Linked DNA regions of Homo sapiens: all the other regions are linked to region 1. The links come from fine-mapping of genetic effects on gene expression. A gene starts in region 1. Each other region holds a variant in brackets. All regions are shown on one strand. Distances are from middle to middle. Region 1 holds the start of KIAA0087 (KIAA0087 lncRNA). Region 2 overlaps LINC02981 (long intergenic non-protein coding RNA 2981). Region 3 holds the start of SNX10-AS1 (SNX10 antisense RNA 1).

Region 1 (2,760 bases):
TACCACATTAGCCAGAAAAAACTTTCCTTGTCATTGATGAAAAACACTCTCTCTTCTTACCTGTCTGAGGTTAACTAGGGATTGCCATGCATAGAGAGAACTTAATGGTATGGGAGGTCATTTATTTGTGTGGCTCTTTGGAGGGAATTTCAATTTTGGTGCCTAGATTACAAACCATATTCAAGTCTTCTGAAGAACCATGGAAAAGGAGAACAACTTACAAATGCCACACACCTTTTGGGAGGCAACAAACTCCCTACGAGCAAGAGTATCCAAATAACGTCCCACCTCTCTGCAGGGCCACTAATGCTCCCGACACAGGGCAGACCTCCAAGTAGAGAAGCATCTCTGGAGAAATTAGAGCCTCCCCACAAGGAATATGAGGGCTCCGATCAGTGGCCACAAGGAACCCCTCCCTGCTGCCTCCACAGTGGCCCCACACTCTGTCTTCTCTGCTCCCATCTTACCCCAAGGCTGCAGGACCTTGGGATAGAAATCTTCTCCCCTAAGCAGCCCAGAGAATGCTCCTTAACCCAAGACAGTGGGTTCTCAGTACTACTTCCTCCTTCCTGCCTGGAAAAGTGCAAAAAGTATAGATATGCCCACAGTTCACTGGGCAAATAATGTACTGACCTCCGGGGGATCCTGGCCTTGAATGGACTAGATCTGCCTTCTCTGAAACACAACTGGTCATGGAGGGTACCCTGCGAACAGATGTTCATCACAGAATTATTTAAAAAGATGAAATGTTAGAAACCCAAATATCTAGCATCCAGGGGATTGGTTAAACATATTGTAATAATATCTTCCTGATGTATTCTACAATATTAATATCAATACAGTATCATAAGCATTCAGTGTCACTGTAGAGGTATTTAATTGAATGGGAAATATTCATAGTACATTATCAAATAAAAACGTTTAAAAGATATAGTAATTTCTTATCTTTGCAAAATAGATATGCATATCTATGCATAAACAAAAACATGGGAAGATGACACTAAAATGTTAATAGTGGTGAGTGATAGATGATAGATTTCTCTCTCTCTCTCTCTCTCCACCTCTCTCTTTGAAGCTGTATTTTACAAATTTCCTGAAATTCACCTGTATTACTTTTGATATAAGCAAAAATTATTTTAAAAGTGGTTATTTTTTAAAATATGGCATTAAGTCCAATTTAAAAGGTAGTGAGCAAATGTTGGGTCGGCTTCTGTAGTCTTAATTCTGGTATCCTTTCAGAGAGGGTCAGTACTCCACGTCTCATTCTTTGTTCTTTTGCAAAACTTTATTTGAAGGCTTTCATCAACTGGTCATTCGACATGCACTTAAACAGGAACCCAGGTAATAAATTCTGCCTTGAGTTTGTTCCAGGAAGCAGTGCGGCTTGACACAAAGGATGTGCATGCTTTATGTTGTCAGATGATATAAACTGTGTTGCCCCAGATTCTGCCTTTTGCCTTAGCTCAGAGCCACCTGGCTGTTTTAATCATCTCATCTCAGATGCCTGGCAACATCTAATTCCTCAGCTCCTTTTCAGTAATTTCAGTTCTATTTTCTTACTCTATCATTCTGGTGTTTTCATTGCATTTTCTTATAAAAGAGATCCAGATTTATTTTGGAAATAGATTTGAATGACGAAAACATCCTATAGAAGCAAATCCTAAACAAATATAAATATTTGACCATGATTATGCAAAGAAAGCTCCTGCTTCCTCCTCTGTGTCACAGAGACCCTCGGGAGGAACTCCAGGGAGAATGGAAGCTTGGGAGTCATCCCAACCCTTGCTCAGGTGCGAAATCCCCTGCCCTCTGCCTGGCACTGATAGGGACGGATCAGTTTCTCTGCCTGGAGAGGCAGCCTCCTGTGACCTGGATACATTGGAGCCTGAACACGGGAACAGAAGGTATCCTCCCTCCTTCCTTAGTGGTCTCCGGGTGCCCTTCTGGGGAGGATTGGCTCTTCTGGGCTTCTTCATGCATATGATTCCTAGTCATGGCTTCAGCCCCTTTAGTTCACTGGGTCCTTATTCCGTGTTTTCCTGTGCCCAGCTGTGAGGCTAGAAAACGGAGAGGAGAAGGAAGAAGGGGACAGGGATGGTGTGGTGGTTGGTAGAAGAGAAAGAAAGATACAGACAGACAGACAGACAGAGAAACAAAACAGACCCTCAGACACTGAACATGTTTAATTAAGCCGACTTTATCCAGTTGCAGTTGAAACCAGGGTGGAAATAATTGATGTTCCTTGTATTGTTTTAGGTGAAAATGGTAGAAATAAATGGAACTGTCAAGGTTGTAAACCTTCCCATCTTCATTACAAATAAAGAATTAAGAAATGAACAGTAGTAAACAGATAGGGGTTCCAAGATGTCTTTTTCTTCCCCCAAGGCAATGTCCCCCTGGAACTTAGCACCAAGGCACCCTGTTTTCTGTCCTGACGGTTACTCCATTTTCTCCTCCCTTGAAAAGGGTTGCCCAGAGCACCCCCAACCCACTCCAAGGCCAGACCTCTCCCAGCCTGAACTTCTTCATAGACCTGTTATCATCCCTCACTCACCTTCAAAGCCTCCCACTCACCAGTTCTTCTTCCTAGTCCTGGGAAAATTCCTTCTCCAGAAGCTGCCTGTGCATTCACCAATCTAGCCCCCTTAATGACCCTTTGAGGCAGACACTTTATCCCCATTTCACAGAGGTGGAAACTAAGCCTCGTAGAAGGTGAGTAACTCAACCCAGGTCACACAGCTCGAGCTAAGGTTCAGGCCA
Region 2 (2,760 bases), 51 kb after region 1:
CTCCCGCACACCCACATCCCCGCTCCCCTCTAAGCATTCCCTTGCTCTAAGCTAGCCCACAACCAGTCATTGATAAGGTATTAAACTATCACCTTATCATTTTTGCATATGGATAACAGACGAATTTTTCAAAACTCAAATATCAGATCTTTATTGGAATTTTGGATATAATGCAAGAGAATTATATCATTTAATTCAAAGCACATACAACAGGTGATCGACTAACCACTCCTACTCATAAACCAGTCCTCATGCCTCTCCACAGGCTCATTTTTAGATTTCCCCCAAAACACAGAAATTTGCCCAAGAATGGATTAAAGCCTTCAGGGTCAGACAGATAATGGTATTTTCAGATTGTGATGACACTCTAGAAAAAAAAAATATGGCTCAACCATTTCATTAGCCTATACCTTATTGTAACCACATCTATAGCTACCTTCTTCCCCCAACCCACCCAGGAGAGCAGGAGGGGGAACTGGTCATGGAGACTGGAGATTGAATTTACATCAGTGGTGTGGTTGTCACGCATTGTTCTCTCTTACATTCTGAAAGTCTTTCCTCCCTGGCTGTTCATTATGAAATCCTCCACCCAAGGGACTTTGGGAGCATTGTGGCATGTCAGATTTTCCAGGAAGCAGACTCTGAAATAAGATTGTGTCCAGGGGGCCTATTGGAGAGTTGTCCAATAGGAACCACACCTGTGAGTGAATGCGGGCAGCAGCCTTGGGCTGCAGGAGAGGCTGAACTGGGCTGCAGTCACAGCAGAGGCCTCAGCTGGCCACACAGGGGTTGGGATGGCCCCTAGAACTGGCCCAACTGAGGCAAGGGGGTCCAGCCTTTGTATCCCCCACAGTGGCCAGTCATTGAATGCAAGATACCCCCAGGAGAGGTCATATCCTTGAGCAAGGCAGCCCTCTTTGGCCAAAGGCCAAGAGCTTCCACTGTAAGCCACCAGCAGGCAGTGCTCCTGGTAGCCGAGGGAATGATGCTTTGGTCCTGAAGGAGAATCTGGGTAGAGCCCCACAGCATCCACTGCAAGAGTAAACCCACTAGCGCCTGGCTCCCGGGACCCTCCAAGTAGTGGCAACATCAATAAACCATAGGGCCTGATTTCTAGGCAGCACCTCACAGTGATAAATGATGGATCAGTAGGCCTGCTGGCTGCAAGAGAAGCTGAGAGGCAGGTAGTGTTGGTGTGTATGTGGGGGTAGGGCAAGGGAGCAGAACACCCCTCGTGGACCTTGATATTGTGCTCTACCTTTCCGCATTCATCCCTCCTCCCCTGAAAAAGTCCTGGGCAGGAAACAAATGTGGTCCTGATGCCTATTGGGCCATCAATCTTGAGATACAGCATTCAATTTCAAAGTTATTTGAC[C/G]AAAGCCAAGTTACAAATCTTGAAGGAAGCTGGCTTTGCAGAGAGACAAGGGCATTTGAAAGCATGAACTGGGGTGAACCTTATAAGCAAAAATCTCAGAAGTCCTTGGTTGCCAACAGTTAGCCAAGCACTTGCTGGACTTACTTTGTTTCCTGGGCCTATGGAAATTTTACCTACAGGTAGAATTGCCCATGCAAAAGCCCGAGAAGTAACCCTGGGGGAGAAGAGTGGCTCACACTGCAGATTTCCTCCCTGGTCTTCTTTCTTCCCCTAAAGCCAGACCATGCAAGAGAGTGATAAAGCCAAGTTCACGGCTTGTCTCCATTCATTTTGTTCTTTTTGGGAAACGGGGAGGAGCCTGGAGCATTTCTCCTTCCACATTTCCTTAAATGGGTCTGACTCAGGTAGAGAGGAGACCACCATCATTGTGTAGTAAGACAGGGGTGGGAGTGACGGGGCTTCCATAGTTACCATTTGCTGAATGCTTAGTGTGCTCGGCACCATGCTGGGTCTGCATGTATCTTCTTATTTAATCCTTACCAGCACCCGCAGAGGTAGATCAGATTATTCTCTTTTTCCCTAGATGAATCAAAGATCAAAGAAATCAAGTAATGTGCCACAAACTCACAGGCAACCACCTACTGAAAGGCAAAATTGGGACTGAAACCCAGGTCTGCCTGGCTCCAGCCCATTTCTGTTGATGGTTAAGAAGCCCCTCCCAGCACTTTAGGAGGCCAAGGCAGGTGATCACCTGAGGTCAGGAGTTTGAGACTAGCCTGGCCAACATGATGACACCCCGTCTCTACCAAAAAATACAAAAATCAGTCAGGTGTGGTGGCGCACACCTATAGTCCCAGCTACTGGGGAGGCTGAGGTGGGAAAATCTCTTGAACCCGGGAGGCAGAGGTTGCAATGAGCCTGGGTAACAGAATGAGAACCTTTCTCCAAAAAAAAAAAAAGAAGCTGCTGTTCTCCCAGGGCCATGGTGCCACACTGCAGTTGTCTTTTCACGTAAATAGGACATTTAATGGCAACTTTTGGTGCACCCGGAATTCTGTTCATCTCCACGCCCAGCTCAGATCCCCTGGGCTGAGTTTGCCTCAAGGGGCTTCTCTGCATCTCCTCAACTTGCCCAGTCACCCACTGCAGTGTCCTCAGCACACCAAGAAACCTGACAGTGTCACTCACTGACTGACAGGCTGATGCACAAGCGGTGCTGAAAGATAAATCAGCCAAGAAGAGAGCCGGCCCGTATCTTCACAAACCGGCAGCATGTCATTCCAAATCAAATGCTTGTATGTACCCTGTTGGTTCGCTGGGCCCAAACCTCCTATACTTGCTCTGAAAATCTGGATCACCATTGGGTTGTGTTATGCCAATCATTT
Region 3 (2,760 bases), 140 kb after region 1:
ATTTTTCCCAAAACACTTTAGGTTTAAGAATGACCTTTCCTAGGTCTTTAGCTTATGATTAACCAAATGAAACCATCACTAGATGGACTCCCTAATTCAGGTGTTGAATTACAAAAATGAATTTTCAGGGGGAAAAAAATGCTAACTCAATTATGTTAGTTAAAATATCAGTAAAATTAGCAATGCCACAGTGTCATGAAGCAGAAGGTCAAAGACCCACACACCCTTTACTGGGCGCCATGGTGGGACTTAACTGGGGCAGTTCCGGTTCTGCCATTAGGACCATGAGCACTCCAATCTCAGTGAAATTGTATAAGACACTGCCATTATCCCCGGATCATTGCCACGATAGACCCAAACAACTCCAGTCTATCGTGTCAATGTGTATTTGGGGAGTCTTTAACACACGGATCATTGGCGAGCTGCACCATAAAAGCCCTGTAGGAGCCGTGGCCGTGTGTGGAATCAATGCACACTCGGGGACTTCCCCACGCCCGGATCATTTGCAGCGCATCGTGTCAATGCATACTCCGGGAGCCCCTACTCCGAAGCCTGTGAGTGCTGAGGAACAGTGTACACCAAAAATACTTATGGAATAGTTGTTACAGTGCGTACACAGTATTCACTTTTCTAAATGGCATGTCAGCAAGTTTAGTGTGCCACAAATAACTCCTAAAAGGCACAAAACACTCCTAGAGGCCCACCTTCACACATGAATGGTTGGTCCATGGAATTGTGGCATGGCTGTGGGGGAGTGTAAGTTTTTCTTTACAGTGAACAAAGGGAAAAGAAAGAGACATCTGCTATTCAGTGTTGTCAGGGTTTTCAGCATAATCCCAAACACCTCCTAATTATTTTCCTGGGCATTTGATCCCTAAGATACAAGGACCTTCCCTCCATCCCTGCCCTGTTCCAAAGTACCTGTAGAGCAAGCTGAGAGGGCAGAGTTAGAGGATGGGTGGGGTTGGGTCTTAAGTGCGATCCCACAGAGATATAATGTGAACCACATGTGTAAATTTAAATGTTCTTTGTGGCCACATTTTTAAAAAAAGATTTAATTCATGATACTTTATTTCACCCCATATACCCAAAATATTATCATTTCAATATGCAATCAATGTTTTTAAATGATGAATGAGCCAGTTCACATTCTTTTTTCCATACAGTCTTCTTTACAATGGGGTGTGTATTTCCCACTTGGAGAACATCCTGGTCTGGCCTGGCCACACTGCAAGCCCTCGGCAGCCTCTTGTGGTCAGTGGCTGCCCCAGTGAGCAGCACAGCTACAGAGGTTCAGGAAAACCAACCCCAGGAGCGTGGATGTTCACTGCCTTCCTTCAACCACTCCAGGCAGGTGCGTCCACCTTTCCTCCTCATTGCCTCACCAGGGCTGCAACTGCCGAACAGCCTTTTCTCGGCAGCCTGACAGAATAGCTGTGTGTTGGGTTTCTGCAATCATAAAAAATGACCACAAATATGCATTCGGAAAGAGGAACGAAAACTCCTCTAGGCCCAAACGGTAATGGCAGTACTAGGTCATCTTTCTTGGAGACGGAGGTGAAGGGAGGGCAAGGGGCCCCTGGGGAAGGAAAGAGGAGGCGGGCGTGGCGTCGAG[C/T]GCGAGGGCGGCGGCCTAGCTGCACCCGCGAACTTCCCCACACCTGCGACCAGCTCACCTCGCGGCGTGAGGGATCCCTGGCAGTCGGACGCGGCAGGGTGGCTGGTTTCTGGGGCTGAGTCTGGCCCGACACAAAAGAGGAGGGAAAGGAGAAGGAGACGGAAACAAAGGCGCGGGGGAGGACGAGGAGGCGCGCGCGGTCGCGGGGCAAAGCGGCGATGCGGTGCGGGCGCGCGCAGCCTGGGGCTCCCGGGACCAGCGGGCGGGAGCAGGCGGAGCGGGCAGGGCGATTTGAATATCAGGCTCTGCCACACTCGGGGCGCCGCTGACAACTTCATTACCTCCGCATATAAAAATGACTGCCGGGGAATGCAAATAGCTCGCCTGTCTCAGCCGCCTGCCCTCGTTCCGCCGCCGGCTGCAGGCGGAGGCCCCGGGAGCCGCGGCGGCCGGAGGCGCAGACGCGCCCTGTCCAACATAATGAACTGCCCGGCCGCGGCTCCGCCCACCCCCCAGCCGCCGAGCCGGGCCGGGAGGGGGAGCCGGCCCGGTGCTGGAGGAGGAAGGGGTGGGCGGCCGGGCGCGGCTCAGAGGCCGCGCGTTGCTAGTCAGTGTCGGCGCAGGCCCTGCCTCTTGACTCTGTCATCCAATTACTGCCATGAAAATACCAGGAAACTAGAGTGCTCAGTGGGTTCCACTCGTGACCGCGAACTCTGACGGAAAAGCGGGACCCCCGGCCTCCGTCCCGTGCGCCCTGGTGGTTAAATTGGACGCCAGCATCCCGGCGCCCCGCTCTCGTCTCGCCTGCAAGCGGGCGGCGGGTGTGCTGCGCCCTGCTCCCCAGGCCTGCGGCCACCGGGACAAGGCTGCGTCGCTGTGCAGGACCCGCCTCCCGAACCCTGGGCCTTGCTGAGCTCCCCGTGTGGCCACCGAGGCAAGCCGCGTGCGGGAGGGAACGCAGGCTTCACGGCGCCTCTCTTCTTGCCCTGGCTTGCTCCCTGGCAAGAAGTCACCTCCCGCCTTCTGATAGCTCCCCCTGTCACATTTGGGCCCCTTGTGAACTTCTCGAGGAGAGGAGCTAGGTCACTTTTATTAATAGCAACAACGACAGTAGTAAACATATGCTGAGGACTATTCTACGCAAG

The links. PIP is the estimated chance that this variant, and not a neighbour inherited with it, causes the effect.
Region 2: its variant is fine-mapped to the expression of KIAA0087 in prefrontal cortex (BrainSeq, PIP 0.95).
Region 3: its variant is fine-mapped to the expression of KIAA0087 in cerebellum (GTEx, PIP 0.97).

What each region holds. Positions count from the first base shown.
Region 1 is chr7:26,537,550-26,540,309 of GRCh38, reverse strand. It overlaps KIAA0087 (KIAA0087 lncRNA), which reads left to right and starts at 1,485. Exons shown (of 2, transcript NR_022006.1): 1 at 1,485-1,904. LINC02981 (long intergenic non-protein coding RNA 2981) reads right to left here. Exons shown (of 5, transcript NR_148502.1): 5 at 1-2,057.
Region 2 is chr7:26,486,158-26,488,917 of GRCh38, reverse strand. The region is part of intron 1 of LINC02981 (long intergenic non-protein coding RNA 2981); the gene reads right to left. Among named protein-coding and RNA genes, the nearest start is that of KIAA0087, 51 kb to the left of the region's middle. The variant C/G (reference allele first, on the strand shown) is at 1,376.
Region 3 is chr7:26,397,935-26,400,694 of GRCh38, reverse strand. It overlaps SNX10-AS1 (SNX10 antisense RNA 1), which reads left to right and starts at 1,277. Exons shown (of 2, transcript NR_136272.1): 1 at 1,277-1,354. It overlaps LINC02981 (long intergenic non-protein coding RNA 2981), which reads right to left and starts at 2,126. Exons shown (of 5, transcript NR_148502.1): 1 at 1,674-2,126. RefSeq lists silencers at 1,590-1,699, 1,790-2,249 and enhancers at 2,720-2,760, 2,034-2,760. The variant C/T (reference allele first, on the strand shown) is at 1,616.